Linked DNA regions of Homo sapiens. The protein of the gene in region 5 interacts with the protein of the main gene of each other region in a pairwise test. Each region holds a gene or a part of one and is shown on either strand. Other genes may lie near its edges. The genes, in order: ABHD4, HM13, CIAO2A, KASH5, DERL1 and TEX44.

The links.
Region 1: the proteins of DERL1 (region 5) and ABHD4 interact in binary tests that used the Homo sapiens proteins (3 or more experiments, as listed by UniProt).
Region 2: the proteins of DERL1 (region 5) and HM13 interact in binary tests that used the Homo sapiens proteins (3 or more experiments, as listed by UniProt).
Region 3: the proteins of DERL1 (region 5) and CIAO2A interact in binary tests that used the Homo sapiens proteins (3 or more experiments, as listed by UniProt).
Region 4: the proteins of DERL1 (region 5) and KASH5 interact in binary tests that used the Homo sapiens proteins (3 or more experiments, as listed by UniProt).
Region 6: the proteins of DERL1 (region 5) and TEX44 interact in binary tests that used the Homo sapiens proteins (3 or more experiments, as listed by UniProt).

The regions. Positions count from the first base shown.
Region 1 is NC_000014.9:22,596,610-22,601,381, reverse strand, and holds the start of ABHD4 ((Lyso)-N-acylphosphatidylethanolamine lipase), read right to left. Parts: upstream 3,083-4,772; 5' UTR 3,076-3,082; coding exon 3,053-3,075; exon of another isoform or gene 2,940-3,052; intron 1-2,939. UniProt on the Homo sapiens protein: Lysophospholipase selective for N-acyl phosphatidylethanolamine (NAPE).
Region 2 is NC_000020.11:31,520,664-31,524,750, reverse strand, and holds part of HM13 (signal peptide peptidase), read right to left. Parts: intron 1-4,087. UniProt on the Homo sapiens protein: Catalyzes intramembrane proteolysis of signal peptides that have been removed from precursors of secretory and membrane proteins, resulting in the release of the fragment from the ER membrane into the cytoplasm.
Region 3 is NC_000015.10:64,074,282-64,077,255, forward strand, and holds part of CIAO2A (cytosolic iron-sulfur assembly component 2A), read right to left. Parts: intron 1,257-2,974; coding exon 1,211-1,256; exon of another isoform or gene 1-1,210. UniProt on the Homo sapiens protein: Component of the cytosolic iron-sulfur protein assembly (CIA) complex, a multiprotein complex that mediates the incorporation of iron-sulfur cluster into extramitochondrial Fe/S proteins.
Region 4 is NC_000019.10:49,394,649-49,398,735, reverse strand, and holds part of KASH5 (protein KASH5), read right to left. Parts: intron 3,631-4,087; coding exon 3,444-3,630; intron 2,968-3,443; coding exon 2,903-2,967; intron 1,086-2,902; coding exon 1,019-1,085; intron 755-1,018; coding exon 593-754; intron 1-592. UniProt on the Homo sapiens protein: As a component of the LINC (LInker of Nucleoskeleton and Cytoskeleton) complex, involved in the connection between the nuclear lamina and the cytoskeleton.
Region 5 is NC_000008.11:123,012,315-123,015,718, forward strand, and holds the end of DERL1 (derlin-1), read right to left. Parts: intron 3,272-3,404; coding exon 3,133-3,271; 3' UTR 856-3,132; downstream 1-855. UniProt on the Homo sapiens protein: Functional component of endoplasmic reticulum-associated degradation (ERAD) for misfolded lumenal proteins. Forms homotetramers which encircle a large channel traversing the endoplasmic reticulum (ER) membrane.
Region 6 is NC_000002.12:231,591,013-231,594,879, forward strand, and holds TEX44 (testis-expressed protein 44), read left to right. Parts: upstream 1-1,851; 5' UTR 1,852-1,939; coding exon 1,940-3,127; 3' UTR 3,128-3,264; downstream 3,265-3,867.

The DNA.
Region 1 (4,772 bases), on a different chromosome or scaffold from region 5:
CTAATTTCTCCTTGTTACTGATTATCATAATTTATGTTCAAGGAGATTAAAGGGAGAGGCATCTTTTAACTAATGTTTCAGTTATCCTTTGCTGTCCCCAGTACTAGCTGTTCCTTAACAGTAGGACAAATTCCCATGCCATCTGCCCTACTGGCAGGGCACTGGTTGGTGTTTATGTATGCCCTCTTCCAAGCCCCTAGAAGTGTGGAATACTGTGTTGTGCCCAACTGATCTCTCAGGTAATCAATCAGTCCAACCCATGGAGATGGGGTAGGCAGGGAGGAGGAGGTGAGAGACCTGGATTCAAGTTCTGTTATGGTTCACTGACAGGACACAGGTTCCCTCTGGTCTTGTTTTCTAGATTGTAAAATGAGTAGAAAGCTCACCTATGTCCTCACCTCTAATGACATGCGGTAACACAGATAACTCATCCCGTTTTCTCCTTCATACCCAGGGACCTTAAGTCATTGCAAGGTAGAGGTTAAAAGCACCAGCTTTGGAATTACACACACACACACACACACACACACACACACACACACACACACACCCCCCTGCTGGACGTGAATCATAGTGTTATCATTGATGAGCAGAATGGTTTTGGCCCATTAAATAACCTGTCTTTGAGCATCTGTATATGTAAGGACACTTGTAAGATGCCCAGTACAAATGAGATGCTCAATGAATGACAGTTTGTATTATTCCTTGTTAACCCCATATGATATTTCTCTTTTCTTGAACTCTGCCTGAGTTACAGGACAGATATCTACAGCTATAGGAAGGGCCTGTGAACACTGGCATATTCAAGGTAGGGCACTCTAAGGGGGAGTGAGGGGAACCATGACCAAATCCCCTTGGCCCACACTGGGCATCCTGATACATCATTTGAAGCACAGAATTTTAAATTAGGATGTTTCCTTAGGAATCAACTAGTCTAGCCTCTGTATTTTACAGATGAGCAAACTGATGCCCAAAGAGGTCATACAAGTTAGAAAAAAAGAACCAGAACTAGAGCCCCTTATCTCAAATCCAGGTTTCTCTCCCTGAACCTTCCAGCCTCAGCTTTTCAAGGTCATGTACAAATATTCACAGAACATAACCACATTTTTACATTTATGTCTGTTTTCTCAAGGGAGGTGTGATCTAAACTCTGAAGGCCAGAGTTCCAATTTTAGCACTGTCACTTACCAGCAATGTGACTGTGGGCACATTATTTAGCTTTTCTGTGTCAGAGCTTCCTCATCTTTAAAAGGGAGGTAATAATATCTACCTCATAGGGTTGCTATAAAGATTAAAAGTGTTAATGCATCTAAAGCACATAGAATATTGCCTAGCACAAACTCCCAATCAACTTTCTTTCCCCCCAGCTAAATCATAAGTTGTCTACATTCCCAGTGTTTTGCAAGTAGCAACTCTCAGTGGATGTTTGAAGTTTGAAAGAAAAACTGGGGTTGCAGCTGGGAGTGATACATCAATGGTTTTAGCCAGATGAGAGTTGTCAATATCAATCGATCTAATCCTAGGGAGACTCAGAATCCTTTTAATATTCTACTGGAATTCCTTGTAGGCTTGAAGCACGGGGACCAAGACCACAGGATTTTGTCAGCCTTAAGAGACAAATTTTCTCTCTAAATCACAGACTGTGACAAGTCAGATCATAACACCTGGATCCCACATTGTCCTGTTACTGTACAAAGCAGAGTTCAGGAGAAACGCTACCCAAGGAACAGCATCATAGACTGCTCAGCAGAGAGTCCTTGGTGGGAGAATTACTTTGCTTTCCTTCTTCACCAAAAATGTTACAAGTAAACACTGGAAATGGTGCCTGGCACACTGTATGTGCTCAAAACTATGCGGGAGGTAAGGGCTGGAGTGGGAAATTGAGGCAAGGAGCAGAAAAGACATTCAGCCATGAACTTAACCTGGCTAGGACGGTCTCTGTCAACTTGATGGGGGTGAAGCACAAGGGGTTCTGTGCTGGGAGAGAATCCTGTTCTAGACCTCTGTGATCTTGGGCAAGTCTCCTAATTTCTATGGACACCAGCTTCTTCATTTTTAAAAAGGAGCTGAACTACCTGCATGTCCTCCAGCTCTAATATTCTGCCTCCCTAAGTCCTTTAAAGCATTGCAAATTTCCTCTTGGAAAAGTCATCTTAGAAAGTAAAACATTCCCCTGGACATTTCTTTCAAGCCCAGCAAGCTATTAATTATGGTCATAAAGTTAATTAGTTCCCCGGACTTCCAGTTCTACAGGTCTGAAAAACAGGATTACTGGGTCCAGGAAAGGCCCAGTTCTGGTGAAACCAAGGCTCGGCTGGGAGCTGAGTCATTCTTCTCGTAGCAACTTTTTCTTACTCCTATCAGATTGCGAACTGCTAGTCACACCACCTACAGGTGGTATCCCAAACCTGATGCCCTTGAAAGAGTGGTAGCAAATCCCAATAGCTCTAAATCTGAAACCATTGCATTAAAGATGTTGTTACGATTATTAAAAGCATTATCAACTAGGATCACATGCGGCTACGTGTCTCGGTGGGCGACAGCTAAAGAAACTTGCAAGCCCGTTGTTCCACACCAATTTCAGCGCGATGGAGACCTCTCCAGTCTCTCCACATCTTCTCTTTGCCGGGCGGAGGGAGGAGGCTCTCTCCATCCCCACGACTGCCGTTCTGGGGGGCAAGTCGAGACGAGCACGCCTGGCTGCTACCTCCGCACCCGCGTCCCACAAGCTTGCTTTCGGGGATCTCACACATCAACATGGAATCTCTCCAGAGGCCAGAGGAGAATGAGGGGCACTCGCGAGGACTAAGGTAGAAAGCCAGGATCCCCGGGCTGCGGGCGAGCGCGTCTCCCATGGCTCCCCAGGCTCAGCCGCTGCCTCTTCTGGGCAAATGCAAAGCAAGCAACGCACCCACCCCCCGCCCTCCCCGGAGGCCGACCTGGAAAAGGAAGAGCGGGAAGGTGTCTACAACTGTTCCTCAGCCACAGACAGTCCCAGGATCATGGCCCAGAGAGAGAGAGAGAAAGAGAGAAAGGGACAGGATTAACTCACTGCTGCTCCAGATCATCGGCCATAGTAAACAAGCCTTGCCAGGTCCTGGCGAGCCCGCCCAGCGCCTGACGCCAGCACCAGCTGACCCGGGAGGCCGCGGGGAGCAAGGGGGCGTGGCCGCGCAGGGGGCAGGGCTCGCGGCGGGCCGGCGGTCGGCGGTGGGACCCTCAAAACTCTGCAACTTGGTTTCAGCTAGTGGGGCCCTTGCTGTGTTTTCAATCACTGGCATGTGTCCCGGCAGAGATGTCTCTGACGGTCTCAGAATGGGACAGTAATCCTGGTCACACATTTGGGGGAGTCCTTGCAGGAGCTCCGACAGCCCTCCCTTCTCTCATAACTAAAAAGTGGTAGAACTACGCCTGCACGCTCGCACCCACTCTTTGGGCTTCCCATTGTAACTGTGTCCTCCTGAAATCGACCCTTGTTAATGTTCCTTCTAGTAAGAGGCTTAAATGTTTGTGGAGACAACGCCATTGGTTGAATGCTCCTACAAAGGGCCTGGATGCCAGATTTCGAAACTAAAATACAGGACACCTAGTTAAATGTAAATTCCAGATTTAAATAAAGCAAATACTTTTTTAGAATAAGTATGGGCCATGCAGTATTTGGGACATAAGTAGGCATCCTGTATTTTCTCTGGCAAACCTAAACCTATATGACATCTGCCAAAATGGGCATATCTCTGCTCTGATGTTGACTCTGACCCCAACCTATTTTCCAGGGAAAATATAGCTCAACTCCAGGTCACCCTCAGTTTGGAGGATAACAGTTGAAGGACTCACCAATAAGGCTAGGTCTCCTTTCGGTATGTAAATGCGGGGACAGGGAGATAAGGCTGGCTTGGCCCAGAGGTCCTGAGTGCACTTCAGTTTGCTCAGCAGAGGAGCTAAATCTTGAGGCTGGCTGCTGAATTTGCTTGTACCGGTAAACAGGGCCTGACCTCCCTGGAACTGTCAGATTTCAGATCATCCCCTTAGTTAAAACCAGACTAGGGGTGGGGCGCGGTGGCTCACGCCTGTAATCCCTGCACCTTGGGAGGCCAAAGTGGGTGGATCACTTGCAGTCAGTAGTTCGAGACCAGTCTGGCCAACATGGTGAAACCCCATCTCTTACTAAAAATACAAAAAATTAGCCAGGTGTGGTAGCAGGCACCTGTAATCCTAGCTACTGGGGAGGCTGCGGCAGGGAGAATTGCTTGAACCCAGGAGGCGGAGGTTGCAGTGAGCCAAAATTGTGACACTGCACTCCAGCCTGAGAGACAGAGTGAGACTCCATCTCAAAAACCAAAAACAAACAAGCAAACAAACAAAAAAAACCAGACTGGGGAGTGGTGGAGGATGGGTGAGAGAATGCTGGTGCACAGGGGTTTATCAAAGCATTTTTCTTTAGCCTTCCTGCAGGACCCAGATGATTCTGAGATTTCTTCTTTGTAGCAACACAGTGTTAAGCTGATCATTATAAAGACTTAACGTTTAGGAGAACCAGCATTTATAGAGTTTAGGGGCTTAGGAATTTGCCAGATGTGGTACAAAGTAGTTCAACTAGCAGAGGACTTGTCTCTTTCATGCAACCTTTTTTTTTTTGAGACTGATTCTCACTGTCACCTAAGCTGGAATGCAGTGTCATGATCATGGCTCACTGCAGCCTTGAACTCCTGGGCTCAAGGGGTCCTCTTGCCTCAGTCTTCTAAGTAGCTAGGACTACATGTGCCCAGCTAATT
Region 2 (4,087 bases), on a different chromosome or scaffold from region 5:
CAGAGCGAGACTCCATCTAAAAAAAAAAAAAAAAAAAAAAGCCACACAACAAGAACTACAAATGGCTCTTAATAATAATAAAAAAAGTCTTTATTCTCACTCTTAATAAGAGCTCAAACTAAAGCACACTGAGATTCTGTTTTTTGTCTATCGGAAAGGTAAGAATCCACACACTGGGTAACATACTGAGTCGGTGGGGCTACGGGGAAAGATGTAGTCTCCCACACTGCCTATGGGAGTCAATCTGTCTTCCTGTAGAAAGCAACTAGGCAATACACAAAAAATTACAAATGCACATACCCTTTGACCAAGCAATTCCATCTGTGGGAATTCTCCCTACAGATATAGTTCATAAATAAGTAAAATGCTACACATAAAGTGTATCCAAGGTATTCCTTGCTCTGTTAACGGCTTGCTGAGTGACTGGGTTTACTTCTCTGTCAAACAGGAGGACAATCTCTAGCCTCACTTCAAAAAAGGTCCAAGAGCCTTCTTTTTTTTTTAAAGAAAAGTGACAGGGTCTCTCTCTGTTGCCCAAGCTGGAGTGCAGTGGCAGGATCATAGCTCACTGCAGCCTTGAACTCCTGGCATCAAGTGATCCTCCTGCCTTGGCCTCCCAAAATGCTGAGATTATAGGCGTGAACCACCACACCCAGCCCCATAGGAGTCTTAAAGCAAATAAGATATGGGATGCGAAACAGCCTGGCAAACTAAAGTACTGTGCCTGTATTGGGGGTTGTGACTATCAGGGAGAGGTGAGTGAGGAGGCCCCTAACCACACCCTTGCCTATGCATGGCTGAGGCAGCCCAGGCTCTGGGCTGGAAGGGAGACCCTCCCCTCTGGAGCCACTGGAGGCAGCTCCATGTGAGTCACTTGGACAGCTTTGCTAGGAGGTGGGAGTGGGGTGGGTGAACAATACCCACATGAGAGGCCCAGTTTCCTTCCTTCCCTATTCTCTCCCAACCCTTGGCTTCTGCTTTTGCCAGCAGTGTGCTGTGGGACTTGGGCAAGTTCCTCATCCCCTCTGAGCATCTCCACACATTCAATACATTTCCTGTGTAGCAGTAGTATGGGTACAAAAATGAGTTCCTGATCTTGAAACACTCACAGGCAGGTAGGTTAATACTGTGACATGATACATATTACAGGGAACACGTATTCTATTTTATGGAATGCACAGCAAAACTGGCTGGGCGTGGTGGCTCATGCCTGTAATCCCAGCACTTTGGGAGATGGAGGCGGGCGGATCACCTGAGGTCAGGATTTCGAGATCAGCCTGGCCAACATGGTGAAACCTTGTCTCTACTAAAAATACAAAAATTAGCTGGGCGTGCTGGTGTGCATCTGTAATCCCAGCTACTTGGGAGGCTGAGGGAGGAGAATAGCTTGAACCTGGGAGGTGGAGGTTGCAGTGAGCCGAGACTGAGCCACTGAACTCCAGCCTGGGTGGACAGCGAGACTCTGTCTCAAAAAAAAAAAAAGACCAGCCTGGCCAACATGGTGAAACCCCGTCTCTACTAAAAATACAAAAATTAGCCGGGTGTGATATTGTGCGCCTATGGTCCCAGCTACTCAGGAGGTTGAGGCAGGAGAATTGCTTGAACCCGGGAGGTGGAGGCCGTAGTGAGTGGGGATCGTGCCACTGAACTCCAGCCTCGGCAACAGAGCGAGACTCTGTCTCATAAAAAAAAAAAAGCCCCCCTCCCAAAAAAAACCCCAAACAGGCTATTATAATGTAGTGTGACACATGATGCAATAGACATGTATATCACTGTGACACACAGTATGAACATCAGCAGTTATGAAGGGACTCTGAGATCAGGAAGTCCATTTGGACTCCCAGCTCTACTTCCCAGCTGTGGGACCTTGGGAAAGTGATTTTTTTTTTCTCTAAGCCTCAATTTCCTCAGCTGTAAAACAAGTTGTGAGGATTCTGATTTCTGCTTTGGAAGTACTCAGCATTGTATCTCGAGTCATCATTTAAACCGTATACACCATTTGTATCATTATTATGCAAAACGGAATCACGACACAGCCAACAAGACACTATTTCTGCAGAGAAGTAAGGGAGTCAGAGGTGGCAAGAGCAGGTACCACTTAAGCAAGGCCTTGATGGTCAAGCACAGTGTCTGGTAGTCTGGAGCCAGACAAATGCTGACTGGGTTTAGGAGTCAGCTTGTCAGTTTTTTTTTTTTGTTTTTTTTTAGTGGAGTTTTGCTCTTTTTGCACAGGCTGGAGTGCAATGGCACAATCTCAGCTCACTACAAATCAAGTGATTCTCTGCCTCGGCCTCCTGAGTAGCTGGGATTATAGGCACCTGCCACCACACCCAGCTAATTTTGTATTTTTAGTAGAGATGGGGTTTCACCATGTTGGCCAGGCTGGTCTCAAACTCCTGACCTCAGATGATCTGCCTGCCTTGGCCTCCCAAAGTGCTGGGATTACAGGTGTGAGCCACCATGCCCGGCTTGAGGAGTGTGCTTTGTGTACAAGGAAAGGAAGTGCTTATCAGGCAGAAAGATATGCACATGCAGAGGCTCAGGGCTGTCAAAGGACACGCAGGACTCTGTGGCTTCACCTACAAACCAGCATTATGGCTCATTTCCACATATTCCTTTCAATTCAGCTCAGCACCCTGGGTGGGAAGAGGCCTAATCTTATTCAGTGACAAACCAAGGTTGGACAGATCCTCTCCATTACACAGAGGACTCTGGTCTCCTTTGCGGGTGACTTATAAATATCCCATGCTGCAATGCTGAGTCAGAATGGGAGACTGGACTGTAATCCCAGCACTTTGGGAGGTCAAGGTGGGCAGATCGGTTGAGCCCAGGAGTTTGAGACCAGCATGGGCAACATGGAGATACTCTGCCTCCATTAAAAAAAAAAAAAAAAAAAGAATGGGAGACCTGAAATCTGACGATAATAGTAATAACAATAACATTACTGCACTGTTCTAGGTACTTTACATGTTTTCATCCTCACAAAAACCCCACAAAGCAGGTACTTTTTTTTTTTTTTTTTGAGATGGAGTCTCGCTCTGTTGCCCAGGCTGGAATGCAGTGGTGCAATCTTGGCTCACTGCAACCTCCGCCTCTTGGGTTCAAGCAATTCTCATGTCTCAGCCTCCCGAGTAGCTGGGACTACAGGCATGTACCACCACGCCCAGCTAATTTTTTGTATTTTTAGTAGAGACAGGGTTTCACCATGTTAGTCAGGATGGTCTGTCACAAGATCCTGACCTTGTGATCTGCCTGCCTTGGCCTCCCGAAGTGCTGGGATTACAGGCGTGAGCCATCACGCCTGGCCAGCAGGTACTTTTAATAGCTCTTTTACAGATGAGGAAGCGGAGGTCTAGAGAGGTGAAGTAACTTGCTTAGTGTCACACAGCTGGTGAGTGGCAGAGCCAGGACTGAAACTGAGGCAGTCCAGTTCCAGACCCCAAACTCTTGGGAGCTGTTTCCTAGAAGATTTCTATCTTTCCTATCTGGAAATTTCGGTTGGAAAGTTTTAACAGGAAGATACTTGGGAAGCCTGCAACCTTTCTGAGGAACAGAATCCTGAAGGTAACTGAACAGCTAATCTTTGTAGTTACAAAAATACTAAAAAGTTGCTAGGATTCTTTACCAATCCAATTGCGATTTTTTAACCAGATTTGTGTATGTAAATACAATAGATCCTGCAACATAAAACACAATTAGAAAGTGGGGGAAAAACCTGACACAAACAGCAGAAGTAAATGTAGCTTCCAGTGACATTCTGGATGTTGTTATCAGAGCGGAAACAAAAGCTGTAAGAGAGGACAGATGCCTGCTTCAAGCCATTGGCACGGTTCAAGCTCTCGGAGCACTGCTTCTACGCCATGCCCTGGAAATGATCTGAAATTCATGGGCCATTCTGTTACTGTTGACCCAGCTGGAGACTCCAGAGTCTCCATTCTTTACCACAACATCCAGTCACTCAGCTCTCCAAGGTTACCTTTCCTAACTTCCCACCCCAATCCTTTGGCCCTCATTGCTGCATTGCTGTCTTCACAACCCCTGCACCAACATTACACTTCTCCCTCCTGCCTATCACCCACCCTGCCAT
Region 3 (2,974 bases), on a different chromosome or scaffold from region 5:
TATTCCTGCGAAAATACTTTCAATTTGGTTTCTTCCTACTACAATGTAGGCTCCACAAAGGCAGGAATGTATCTCAAAGGCTGAACTGTACCCACACATAGAAGGCACTTAATAAATACTTACTAAATGAAAAACAAGACTCATAAGACTTAATACTATTGCTGCTGTAAAATCCTATCATTCAAGGAATTTCAAAACGATAACCTGAGTGGATTTAGGGTACCTAAACTCTTATTTTTCTAAATTACAGGTAGAAGCCCTCAGCTCGTGGGGTTTAAAGAAATTCAGCCCACAAAGAGTATAATAATCTACATGTCTAGAACTATAAATAGGGCATGGTTTTTAACAGTTTTCATGACAGTACCTAAAAAGTTTCCTGGATAGGCTGTTCCTCTGGAAGCAGCAGGCTTCCCTCTCTATAGCTCTCTTTTATGTAGGAGATTTTGTGTGTCTCTCTCCAGCCCTGTGTATGCCTTTCTGAGTCTTCTTGGTATCTATCTCACTGTTGCTCTTCCTCTATTAGCTCTTTCTTCCATTCCTCTGCTATTTTTTCCCACCTTCTCAATTTACTTAGTGATGAAACTTAAGTACAACATGCCTTTTAAATGTATTTCTCATTATTTGCACTCTATCATTTGTAGATTAAAAACATTAAAATTATGTTTTTAATGTAACACAGGGATCATACAGAACATTTTGTTTTTTGCTTTTCCCAAACCCCACTTCTGCTATTTTTAAGTAGCTACTGATTGATTTCTCTCTGTAGGCCAGAGGTCCTCTATATAAAAAAGGTTCCCCACTCCCATTCTAATATACTAACCCAGAGAGACAGCACCTACCCCAAGATTCACTAAAGCTCTACTTGCTAGACCTTCAATTTCAAGTACACAGCTCTCTATCCTGTCACCAAAGAAAAGAAGCCTACTTAGAGCTCATAAGTCAAGGTCCCCAGCACTGGATATTCTTTACAGATGTGTAGCCACTGGCCTAAACCAGTCAACATCCGTGGGCTCTAGTGCACTCGGAGTCCACTGCAAAAATTACTTCTTTGAAATGCCTAGGTTTCCTCACCTAGGAAGGAAGAGCCAATAACCAATTGTGCACTTTTTTGAAAGTAACCCAGTAGATTCTTGGCTGGCAGAAGAATCCAGTATCCAAGATAAAATACTATCTGAAGTTGTTTTTCAATTATGTTTCAACATTCACTTACTGTCTTCTTCTGTTGAGTGGGTTCCTTCAGAAATGTAGATTTCCAACTGGAAAGTGGGAAAAAAAGTAAAAGAAAAAACATTAATGCATTCTAAGATAAGAGAGTGAAGTGGAATGTACAGTAAATTCAAACATCTAGGGATGAGTGCCCAAATCCTGTTTCTTTTTTTTTTTTTTTGAGATGGAGTCTCACCCTGTTGCCCAGGCTGGAGTGCAGTGGCATGATCTCGGCTCACTGCAACCTCCGCCTCCTGGGTTCAAGCAATTCTCCTACCTCAGCCTCCCAATAGCTGGAATTACAGGCAGACGCCACCACACCCAGCTAAGTTTTGTATTATTATTTTTTTTTTTTAGTAGAGATGGGGTTTCGCCATGTTGGCCAGACTGGTCTCAAACTCCTGACCTCAGGTGATCCGCCTCGGCTTCCCAAAGTGTTGGGATTACAGGCGTGAGCCACTGCGCCCAGCGCCCCCCAAATCCTGTTTCTAACATCAGAGACATAGGGACAAATCCCCCACATCCTTCTCTAAAAAAAAAAAGGACTGAAATGAGTAGGATTTTTTATTTTGTTCACCTGGAAAAGGCCTGCAGGTGGTATTTCCATTAATTTTTTTATGAATACACAAAAATATCATTTTACACAAATGAGATCTCATATGTGTGGTTTTACTTAAGAATATCTCTTTTCTGCACTCTACTTCTTCCCAACTCGGTATCTAAACTTCCTCCTGCCCTGCTACTGACTCAGGAAATCTACAATAACAATCTAGTGTGGTTTCTTCCATATTCTTCTCTTTACCCACATAATCTTACACAGATTTTACACACACACACACCCACATATCAGGGTTGGAAGTTTCTTCACATTGCTTGTTTTACAAAAATGGGATCACAATATAGTTTTCAGCATCCTTCTTTTCTCATTCATTATTATCATGCTAAATTTATTCTCAAGTATAATACTGGTTAAGCTATCCCTCCTGGCCCTGCTGCACCTATAGACATGAGCTACCCTCCAAGACCCAGAGCTTTTAAGACAACCTACAAAATTATTGCAAATCCTGTGGTAAAGAGAGTATGCTGTAATAAAGACGTCTACTTTCCAGAGAACACTGGAACATATGAACTAATTTTTATTTACTTATTTACTACGGAGATAAACATTTCTCATGAGTGAGAAAAATCATAACTTATTATAGTTAAAAGGGACCTTAAAGGTCATCTAGTCCAATCTTTTTTTTTTTTTTTTTTTTGAGACAGGTCTTACTCTGTCGCCTAGGCTGGAGTGCAGTGGCGCGATCATGTCTCACTACAGCCTCGACTTCCTGGGCTCAGGTGATCCTCCCACCTCAGCTCCCACACTCCCACCCCTCTCCTCCCTCGTCTCTATTTTTTTGTAGAGACCGCGTATCGCCATATTGCCCAAGCTGGTCTTGAATTCCTGAGGTTAAGTGATCCGCCCATCTAGGCCTCCCAAAGTACAGAGATTATAGGCGTGAGCCACTGCACCTGGCCCCAATTTTTTTTAAAAAACAAAACAAGCCGGGCGTGGTGGCTCATGCCTGTAATCCCAGCAATTTGGGAGGCCGAGGCAGGCGGATCACGAGGTCAGGAGATCGAGACCATCCTGGCTAACACAGTAAAACCCCAACTCTACTAAAAATACAAAAAATTAGCCGGGCGTGTATTACCAGCTACTCAGGAGGCTGAGGCAGGAGAATCCCTTGAACCCGGGAGGTGGAGGTTACAGTGAGCTGAGACTGCG
Region 4 (4,087 bases), on a different chromosome or scaffold from region 5:
GCACAGAGAGATGAAAGGGCGAGTGACATGAAGAATCAGAGAGTTAAAGAATAAAGAGAGAAATCTAGGCTGGGTGCAGTGGCTCAGGCCTGTACTCCCAGCACTTTGGGAGGATAAGGCGGGAGGATGGCTTGAGCCCAGGAGTTTGAGACCAGCATGGGCAACACAGTGAGAACTCATTTCTATAAAAAATAAAACAAAATTAGCCAAGCAGGGTGGTGGGCCTGTGGTCCCAGCTACTTGGGAAGCTGAGGTGGGAGGCTCGCTAGAGCCCAGAGGCGGAGGGTACAGTGAGCTGTGATCACCCCCACTGCACTCCAGCCTGGGTGACAGAGTGAGAACCTGTCTCAAAAAAAAAAAAAAGAGAGAGAGAGAAGTCTGAACCCTCAAGGGAAAGATAAAAAGACCAAAACAGAGGCTGAGAGATAAGAATCAGAGAGACACAAAAGATAAAAACAGAAAAGGGAAAAGAAAGGACAGGTACAGAGTCAAAGAGCAGGATGCAGACACGAGCATGGGAGATAGAGGCCGGCTGCTGCAGGGAGGACGGAGGCAGGGGCGCTGGGGAGGGTGGGTGTGGCATCCAGCCCACCTGTGAAGCTGCTTACGCAGAGCCAAGATCTCCTCCCCAAGGCGTGCTGACCCCTCCTCAGCTGTCTCCATGCTCCGCTGCAATTTGGCATTCTCCCCAACCAGACGTCGGTTGCTGAGCTCCAGGTCCTCCAGGCTGCTCAGCAGGTCAGCTGTGGCTTGTCTAGGGGCAAGGAAGGGGTTCAGGTCACTGTCCACAGCCCCTGACTCATTTCCCCGGGTCGAGGTAGGTGCTGGTGGTGGGGAGATGTGGCTCTTTTGGGGAAAGATAAACAGGAGAGAGACTCCTCTGCTCTCCCTGAACTTTCAGCAAAGCCCCGTCCCTCATTCATTTCCCTGAAGGATCCCAAGCCCTACCCGGGCCTCGGCAGGCTGGAGGGGACAGGGTGTGGGCAGGAGGGTCAGGGAGGGGTGTGAGGATAGGTACAGCTCGGGTCTGGGGTCTTCGCCTCCGAAGCTCTCCAGGTTGGCTGGCTCCTCAGCTTCTGGGCATCCTGGAGGGAGAGAGCCAAGAGAATGTTGGCTTCCCTGGAACCCTTAAACGTAAAGTGCCCCAGGGCTCTGAGGTTGGACTCCATCTGCCTCCACCCTCACCTGTGCTCTGGAGAATCTCATGGGCTTTTGGGGCTGCAGTTATACCCACTGTAAAGCCCTCTTGCTTGTCTTCTACCTTGAGCTCAGGCTGGATCTCCCAGATAACCCTAACTCCCCACATTCTTTACACCCAACACTGGGCAGCACTTCACCTTCCCCTTCCCAGATCCCCCACCGACCACTCAGCCACTGGGCGGACCTGGCTCCCTTGCTCCCTGTCACCCCCAGTCCAGCAGAGCCCAGACTTCTCCCTCCTGCCCCTGACTCTCTGCTCCACCCCTCCTCTCTGTCTCCATGCCCCGGCCCTTGCTTTCTCCTCTTGGATCCTCACCAGAGCCTCTTCTCTGGCCTTCTGGCCTCTAGTCCCTCCTCTGCTTGCAGCCCTCCCTGGGCCCCCAAGCCTGATGAAGGAGGTTGAAGAGAACTTCCTTCCCCACCGTTTTTTGTATGGCTAGAGAAATGGAACATGACCACCATTTTTTTTTTTTTTTTTTAAAAGACAGGATCCTGCTCTATTGCCCAGGCTGGAGTGCAGTGGTGCAATGCATGGCTCACTGCAGCTTTGACCTTTCAGGCTCAAGCGATCCTCCTGACTCAGTGTCCCGGCTAGGACCACAGGTACATGCCACCGCACTCAGCTAATTTTTTATTTTTAGTAGAGATGGTGTCTCACTATGTTGCCCAGGCTGGTCTCAAACTACTGGGCTCAAATGTTCTTTCCACTTTGGCCTTCTAAAATGCTGGGATTACAGGCTCACGCCTGTAATCATGACCACTTTTTTTATGGAGCACCTCCTATGTGTGAGGTCCTGGGGATACAATGGTGAGCAAACCAGCCAACTAAACCCAGGTGCCAGTGGCTAACTAGATAATCAGATTTCCTCTGCAGGTGGATGTTCCAATGGAAAGGCCTACAAGTCTAGGAGTGAGCATGGGGAGCAAGGAACTCTAGCCAGGGGCATACCAGGGCTTCCCCTTTGCCAGAGGAGTGGATGACGGCTTGGCGCAGTGGCTCACGCCTGTAATCCCAGCACTTTGGGAGGCCAAGGCAGTTGGATCACCTGAGGTCGGGAGTTCGAGACCAGCCTGACCAACATGGAGAAACCTCGTCTCTATGAAAAATACAAAATTAGCTGGGCGTGGTGGTGCATGCCTGTAATCCCAGCTATGCGGAAGGCTGAGGCAGAAGAACTGCTTGAACCCAGGAGGCGGGGGTGGCGGTGAGCTGAGATTGCGCCATTGCACAACAGCCTGGGCAACAGGAGTGAAACTCTTATCTCAAAAAAAAAAAAAAAAAAAAAAAAAAAGTCCAGCAGGGTGGGGAGCAAGGAGTGGAGGGGAACAGCCTGAGCAAGGACCTGTGCTGGGCAGAAGTGGGGCACATTCGAGGAAGGGCAGCAAGACCAGTGGGCCTGTGAATTCCTGGACTAGAGTGAGGAGAGGTGATGTTAATGATGGAGCAGAGGTAGGCGGGGCCTCGTAGGCCTCTCTAATAGGGCTGGTGTGAGGAGAACGAGTTGGAAACCACCCTCTGAAGAAAAGAAACCCAAAGCTCACGGAAGGAAGGGACGGAGGACCTAGAAAGCCACACTCACAGCTCTAGTCTACAGTAAAGGTCCCTGGTTCCTACCCTATCCCTTGCTCTGCCCTGGGTGGTAAGTCCCCACACTGTCTGACCCAGGGCCTGCCTGCTTCATTCTATATATAGCAATCTCACCAGATGGCAGTTGCCGGGAGGTCAGGGCTCCCTGGAAGGCGGTCTCCTCTTCCAGCTCTAATCCCCTGTATCAAAGGGATGAGGCTTAGCGCCCCACTGTAGCTGCCCCTCAGTCCTCACCAGCCACAGGCAGGGGGATTGCAGGTGGGAGGAGGGGACCGGGTCAGGTGAGAGCTGGCACCACAGGGTAGGAGGGTGAGGCCAGATGGCAAGTGCCCGTGGCCAGATGGAAAAGCAGGAGGGGCAAGGAGTGGGTTTGGTGAAGGGTTGGGGAGGGACCTCTGTCAGCCCCAAACTCCTCCCTTCTCCAGCCCCATTTTATTTCTGTCTCCCAGACCCCCTCTGCTTCCTCATCCAAATTATTTTGTCCTCAGACTCCCTATCTACCCCCTCTGAATCCCGTCTCTTCATTTTTCTCTCCACAGCCTCATTCCAAACACAGTAGGTCCTTGGGCCTAAAGGATGCTGGCTCCAGTAAGCAGGTATGAGGTTAGATCTTAGGAAGGACTTCCCAGAGGAGGATGAAGATGTGGGGACTCACCCATGTAGTTGACAGGCAGCAATCCAGTCACGCATGACAACCAGGAAAGTGTCCAAGTCCACAGTGGCCTTAGGGCCCTCCCCATTGGGGTCCAGGCTGTTGGCCAATGTTTGGAGGCGTGCATCCTGGGGGCCCTGGCCTGTCACAGCCTCCAGGTAGGCCAGCACCTGGGCCACAGCCACAGTGCCTGTGACAGAGCATGCAGTGAGGGGGTCTGGGGCAGGTGGGGAGTGATGGGTATGGACTGGCAGCAGCTTGGGACCAGGATGTCACTGGCTAGGCTGGTGGCACTCCTGCTCCATGGCCCAGTGGAGACACACTGGGCAAGCCCTTTCCCCTCCTCTGAGTCCACTTTTTCACCTGGAAATGGGGCCCAGTCATCCCCCCATCACAGGGTAAACCAAAGGGGATGGACATAGGGACAGCATCAGCCATGCCCCACGCCACCATGGTGGCTGCCTCCCTCCCCTATCCCACGACCCCAAAACTCTGCCCTCTTCCATCAACGTCCCCCAAGTTTTCCTCATTCTAAAAGGCCTTCACCCCATTATCCACGTTCTTCTTCCTGAAGCTTCCCATAATCACCCACTTTGTTCTTACAATACCCCCAAGAGGGGGCCTTAGCCCAGTCTTCTCTCTGAGGC
Region 5 (3,404 bases):
AGCTACTCAGGAGGCTGAGGTGGGAGGATCATCTGAACCTGGGAGGCAGAGGTTGCAGCGAGCCGAGATCATGCCACTACACTCCAACCTGGGTGACAGACTGAGATCCTGTCTCAAAAAAACAAAGAAAGAAGAGACAGAGAGGGAGAGAGGGAGAGAAAGAGGGAGGGACAGGGAGGGAAGGTGGGAGGGAGGGTTAAGAAAGAAGTAAACACAGGACATGGTATTCCTGGCCAATTCTGATCACCAGTCACTCTGGAAGGCAAACAAGTGAACTGCCAGTAAACCCATTTGCTCAGCCCAGCCTTCTAAGAAAAAAACAGTATAAAGTCCAGAAAGGAGTAACTTCTTTCAAAGGTTAGTTATTCAGAGTGTTAAGTTACTGCTGAAAGTGTAAGAGGGGCAGGGACCTCAGAAACAGAGTTGGCAATAAACGAAGATGTTGGCAACTGCAACATTGCCTATTATTAGATCCATGTCATTCAAAAGGTAGCTTAGAACACAATGATACTGGCAATGTGTCCTTCTAAATAAGCGGGATCTTTTTCTATTGCTTCAGTATTTCCCCAGTAATAGAAGAGGGACATACATACAACCTGCTTCCTGTCACCTCACCTTGTGATGAGTGAAGTTGGCCTGTCGAAGGCCCAAGATACAGACTGGGATGTTCACCCTCGAGGAAAAAAAAAAAAAAGGGCTCAGGAATGTCATGGCACCTGCTATCTAGTCTGTGTGTGCCTTATGAGGAAACAGGATTAAACTAATTTTATAAAGTTCCAGGGCTCAGATCCATGGGTAGAAGCTATAAAAATGCCATAAAGCATGCTACAATCAGATATGACTCCTCACTCAAAGTTAGCAAGCATCCTCCTTCATTAAAATGAAAACCCAGGAATTCTGCATCCAGGAATTAATCCAGCAAAAAATACTGGGTACTTCCTAAATGCTCTTCAAGAGATAATTGGTTACACAAATTATGTGATATCTAAGAGACAGCAGAGCAGGGACATGGAAACTTAACACAGACAACCTTCAAGTTGCACATTTTAATTTACAATTTTTACCAATAAAAAGGATTAGTTTACAAAAAGGGAAGTCCTTTATACAAAATAAGGATTTTTTTTTTCCATTTGTAAAGAGAATCCACTGTCATGTTTTGCCTTGTCAAGTCAAAACTCAAATAGCTTGTTTTGGTAAAATTATTCCAGAAACATAATCCAGACAAAATCAATAACGTCATCAGCTTCCTAACCATGTTTAAGAGGAATAACTTCATGAACATTTTGCCCTGAACTGAAGAGTTCTAAATACTTGTAAACCTTTAGGAAAAAATGACTGCTCGCAGGCAGCTGACTGGTAAGAGGGTACACCAGAGACTCCGGGTCACTCACTGTCAGAATATTCTTATACATACAATGAGTCTCCACGCCTGTACAATGAGTGTACGTGCAACATAATTGGAGTAATGGCCTCTAAAATTTTACAAGTAAACTTTATTGTGGCCACAGATGAACAACAAAACATGACAGTTAAGGTTCAGACTCTCCCCACCTATTTTATCATATAAATTAAATATGGAGAGGTACACACAAACTCTATTCAAAATGAGAAGTTGTTTGCCAACTCTCATTTCCTAGGATAACACACATCACACTGTTTAAGAGTGGGGGAAAGAATAGTCATACTGTTAGAGCACAATGTTTCCTGAAAAGAAACTGATCAAAACGTTTGAAGCCTTTTTAGTTGCCTCAAAGTGTGACAGCCACTCAATACTGCTCCTAACAGTCTGCTTTCAGATAACGTCATAAAATAAAATAACTGTGTGAAAAGCCATGGCCTTCAAAAAACTTTATTTGGTTATGAGCCAAGCTCTGATAGGAAAAGCCCACCTACGAAAAAAAGGTGTGGGTATTTAAGCTGGTCTGATTCACAGAGCTTGTACATTCATGACTCAAAATAACACACCCTCAAACCCAAATGATTCTAAAGCCATTTCAACCTTAAATCATGTTATTCCCTTAGATGTGCTTACATTAGCTTTAAAAAATGATCTACGTGCAGAGAGGAGCTGCGCCTTCCTCACAATTAATTGAAACATGACCAAAAAACGGGGGATAGGCAAAAAAGTGACATTTAAATAGCGTATGAGGGTCTCTCCTCCTTTACTCAATGAACACATATCCAGAATGAGATTGAAATGGAATCAATGCCCAGGAGCCTCTCAAAGAGAGCATCTCCCTGTAGCCAACATGATCTGGATCCTCCTAACACAAAGCAACCCAACTACTCCAGCTACACAAAGCCAGTAGGCCTACATATGAAACGCAAAGGGGTTGCATCCCCCATGGTTTAAACCTAACCCATGTTAGCTGCAACTCCACTACAGTCTTGATCACTTAGCTCAGGAAACAAACACCCAGCAACAACCCTCGTATCTCATTAATACCAATCTGTGGCCCTCACTGACTCAGTGGTACTTTTTTATAAAAATATCTGAAGAAGTGGCAAACGGTTACAACGGATGTCAGGTCGAAGCAATTCCAAAAGCTGAGAAAACGCTTCATCCGCTGCTTGTCTTCTCCCCCTATTGCTACAGTTCTGCCACCAAAGGGGGAAAATTACGTGAATATGATTGTTGTGACCAAGCCTTGGCAAAAGTCAATAAATAACAGAACCTGTCAAGGGCAGAGCAATTTTATGGGCAACCTCTTCTAGTTGCAAATGTGGGGGTTGGGAAAAGTGGGAGAGAGGCATGTGTGCAAGAAAGAGATAAGGGTCCTTTTGGGAAGGGTTTGGTGACCCAGCCCCAGCTCAATGCCAGCAGACTAGGACCCGCTAAAACCCATTATTCAGACGGAAAGGGGAGAAGAGAAGACACCAAAAAATGTAGTCAGTTTTGCAATTTGCACAGTTGGTATTTGTTCTTCACAGCAGTAAGGACTTGAATGAGAATCGTGAAACTTGTGGAACACTTATATTTTTCTTCGGGATTTAAGAAACTTTGTCTCGTACTGAAAGACTACATTCAGTGTGGGTCAGGTCCAACAGTGTTAGCCAGAACGCAGTTGTTAAGTGCACCCAGCACTGGGAGGAAATGTGGCTTGAGAGGAGCGGCTGCCCGAGGCCGCCCCTTCACTGGTCTCCAAGTCGAAAGCCCTGGCCCCAGTTGTGTCTCCCGCCTCCGCCATTCTGATCAGCAGCTCGCCTCATGCTAGCAGGGGGCACACCAAATCCTGATACTCCTCCTCTCCTACTGGGCAGCCAGCGGTACCTGGTGCAGAAAGACGGGGACACAAACGGAGAGAAGAGAACAAAGTCACTTCCACATAGTTATCTGACCTCCGAGAACACCTCCCTCTCCTGCTGTTCCCATGGCACTTGTCATGTTGAAGGCAGCGAGGGAC
Region 6 (3,867 bases), on a different chromosome or scaffold from region 5:
CGCTCCGTCACCCGGGCTGGGATGCAATGATGTGATCACAGCTCACTGCAGCCTGGAACTCCTGAGCTCAAGAAATCCTCCTCCTGGGCCTCAGCCTCCCCAGTAGCTGGGGCTACAGGTGCACACCACCATGCCCAGCTAATTTTTGTTTTATTTTTTGTAGAGACAGGGTCATACTACGTTGCCCAGGCTGGTCTTGAACTCCTGGGCTCAAGCGATCCTCCCACCTTGGCCTTTTAAAGTTCTGGGATTACAGGCATGAGCCACCATGCCCAGTCCCTCATTCAACGTTTTTAATATCCCTCCTGGGTATGAGAGAGTGCTGGAAAGCTTAGTATTGAAGCCAGACAGGGTTCAAATCCCAGATTCAGCTCTTATTAATAGTGTGGCTTTGAGTAAGTCGCTTATTCTCTGTGAGGCTCAGCATGCCTGTGTGTAAACTGAGTATACTAGTAGAACCGTACCTACCCAGAGGTGATGGGTGATGAGAAGGATGCTATGCGCCCTTTTCTGCCCATAAGCAGTCACTAAATGTTAGCTGATAACCCCTGGAGAAGCACAGACACGACCGACTGAGCCTTCCTCTCCAAACATCTTCTTAATGTAGGCATTTTTTTTTTTTTTTTTTGAGATAGAGTTTCGCCCTTGTTGCCCAGGCTGGAGTGCGATGGTGCGATCTCGGCTCACCACAACCTCCGCCTCCCGGGGTTCAAGCGATACTCCTGCCTCAGCCTCCCGAGCAGCTGGGATTACAGGCATGTGCCACCACGCCCAGCTAATTTTGTATTTTTAGTAGAGACGGGGTTTCTCCATGTTGGTCAGGCTGGTCTCAAACTCCTGACCTCAGATGATCTGCCCGCCTCAGCCTCCCAAAGTGCTGGGATCACAGGCATGAGCCACCGTGCCCAGCTAAGCACAAGTAGGTGTATCTGGGGTTATCCTTCTCCAAGAAACACTCAGAGGTCTGCAGACCTTTTGTTATTCTCTGCCCTTCTAGTCCAGATGAGCAAGGAGAAGATAGAGATTTTTGCCCTACATCAAAAGGGTTAAACCCACAGCCACAAATGGAGCTGCCCAGGCCCTTGGCTTTTGCTTATACCTACTCACCACTGCTGGGAAACTGATTCCCTGCAGGAACACTGACTAAATTGGGGGTGGTTATTTGTTGTTGTTTGTTGTTGTTGTTGTTTTGTTTGTTTATTTGTTTTGAAACGGAGTACGCTTTTGCCCAGGCTGGAGTGCAATGGTGCGATCTCGGCTCACTGCAACCTCCACTCCCTGGGTTCGAGCAATTCTTCTGCCTCAGCTTCCCCAGTAGCTGGGATTACAGGTGCACGCCAATACGCCCGGCTACTTTTTGCATTTTTAGTAGAGACAGGGTTTCACCATGTTGGCCAGGCTGGTCTCGAACTCCTGACCTCAGGTGATCCCCCCACCTCAGCCTCCCAGAGTGCTGGGATTACAGGAGTGAGCCACCATGCCCAGCCTAAATTGGGGTCTTGAGGCACCAGTGTAGACAGAGAGGTGCCAGGAGGGGTCCCTTATAAACACTGTTCTAAATCAACATCTGCATCCCTTCTCATTTGTCAGAGTCACAGCTGTCACTCCTCCTGTGTCCCTGTGGTTGTACTTGCCCCTGTGCACACGCCTCCAGCCCTTTCAAGAACATTTGTCATTTTTTCCCTATGTACCTGCAAAGTTGGCAACAAACTGTCCCATAGACTTAGCCCACTTGGAAGGCTGCTCCAGAAGCTCAAGACCCTTGCTCTATGGGTACCTGTGACATCACCAGTGGCCACAGTCCCTTGTGACCTCACCACTTGGACAACTCAGCCCAGCTGGGTTGCAGCCACTCCCTCCAACCGCCACAAGCAGCAAAGGGCATAGATGACCACAGGAGAGCCCTAGGGGGAGGCCGGCTCCACCAGCAGCCCCATACATGGCACTCCCAGGGTACCCCCTGGGCAACGTGGATGACAGCAGGTCTAAGGACAGCCCAGCAGGAGAGCCCCAAGGTCAGGTCCCACTCACAGCAGATGTCTTGGCAGTGAGCAGCTCTGTCGCATCCACTGACTGGCAGGATATAGATCAGGCCTCCTTCAAGACGGCCACCCCCAGGGCCATATCAACATCTGGAGACAAAGACAAGAGTGCAGTTGTTCCAGAACACGGCCAGAAGACACCCAGAAAAATCACACCTCTGCTTCCCAGCCAAAATCCAAGTCCCCTGCAAGTGTCTATGAGCCTTCAGAATCCAGCGTGGGACAGGCAGGTTCAAGACGCAAGGACAAGTCAGAGTCTAGTGGTTTTCCCAAGTCACCTCCTGGGTAAAGACAAGATGTCACAAATGGCGAGTGTTCCTGAGAGAGAGCCGGAGTCAGCCCCCTCTGCCCCGAGTGCTGAGCTACAGTCCACCCAGCACATGGAGGCTCAGCCCGTCGAGAGTGATGCTGACCATGTCACAGCAGGTGCCAATGGCCAGCATGGCCCTCAGGCTGCCAGCACCACCAAGTCTGCTGAGGAGAAAGCTGAGCATCCAAAGGCCCCACACCCTGAAGCTGAAGCTTTACCATCTGATGAGTCCCCAGTGGCAATGGGGGCAAATGTGGTGGACAGCTTAGGAGACCTGCAGACTTGGTTCTTCCCTCCACCTCCAGCAGGCAGTGTGTCCCCGTCGCCTGGCCCCCACGAGGTGGCCCTGGGGAGAAGGCCCCTGGACTCCAGCCTGTACACGGCCAGTGAGGAGAACAGCTACATGCGCTCCATGACCAGCCTGCTGGACAGGGGCGAGGGCTCCATCAGCTCCCTGGCAGACATCCTGGTGTGGTCCGAGACCACCATGGGCATGGCCATAGCCACAGGCTTCCTGGATTCCGGCCACAGCACTGTGGCAGACCTGCTGCACAGCTCGGGGCCCAGCTTGCGCTCGGTCCCCAGCCTGGTGGGAAGCGTCAGCTCGGCCTTCTCCTCTGGGCTGGTGTCAGGGACCAGCTCAGCCCTGCGCACCATCACCCGTGTGCTGGAGACAGTGGAGCAGAGGACCGTGGAGGGCATCCGCTCAGCCATGCGCTACCTGACCAGCCACCTCACCCCACGCCAGGCCCAGGCTGACCCCAACTATGATTAGAGCCCTGCACAGGGACCCCCGAAGGGCTGGTTCAGTGGCCTCCAGAGATCCCTGGGACCCTCACGCCCTGCTCCCTTGCCCATTCTTGCTCTGGACGGTTCCCCCAGCCCATGCAATAAATCACCAGTGAGCATTTATTTCTAAGCACCAGCCTCCTCCCTTGGGGTGCAGTGAGCAACACGGTGACAGGACAGGAGGGCTCGGGGTGCGGTGGAAACAGCGTCCCCTGAGGGTTTCTCAGGCTGTCCCATTCAGGGGCTGGGGGCAAACGTGCAGAGAAGAACCTGGACAGAGCTGGAGGCAGTGTGGCGGGGGGTGTCTCAGACCTGCAAAAACCCATCCCTACTGAACCTCCACCCAGGTAAGCTCCTGAGGAGCCTTCCCAGGGGCCTAGGCTGGCCTGGCGGGCTCAAGCTGAGAGGCAGAAGAGGCAGTGCAGTTGACAGTACTGAGTCACACCATGTGGGTTCAAACCCCAGCGCCAGCACTTGCCCTGGGCGAATCACGTCACTCTCAGCCTACTCAGCTGTAGAAAGGAGAGAATAAATCCATACCATGACACTGTTATAAGACAGAAGGGAAGCGATGCAGGCCATAATGCATGGTGTCTGGCACTTGATAAGCCCACACATGGTGGCTGCCATTATCATTATCCTCCGGTGAGCTGGGGGTGCAGAGGGAGCAGGAGTCTAAGCAAACCGACTGTCCTGGTTTGCCTCAGACTAAGGGGGTTTCTGGGT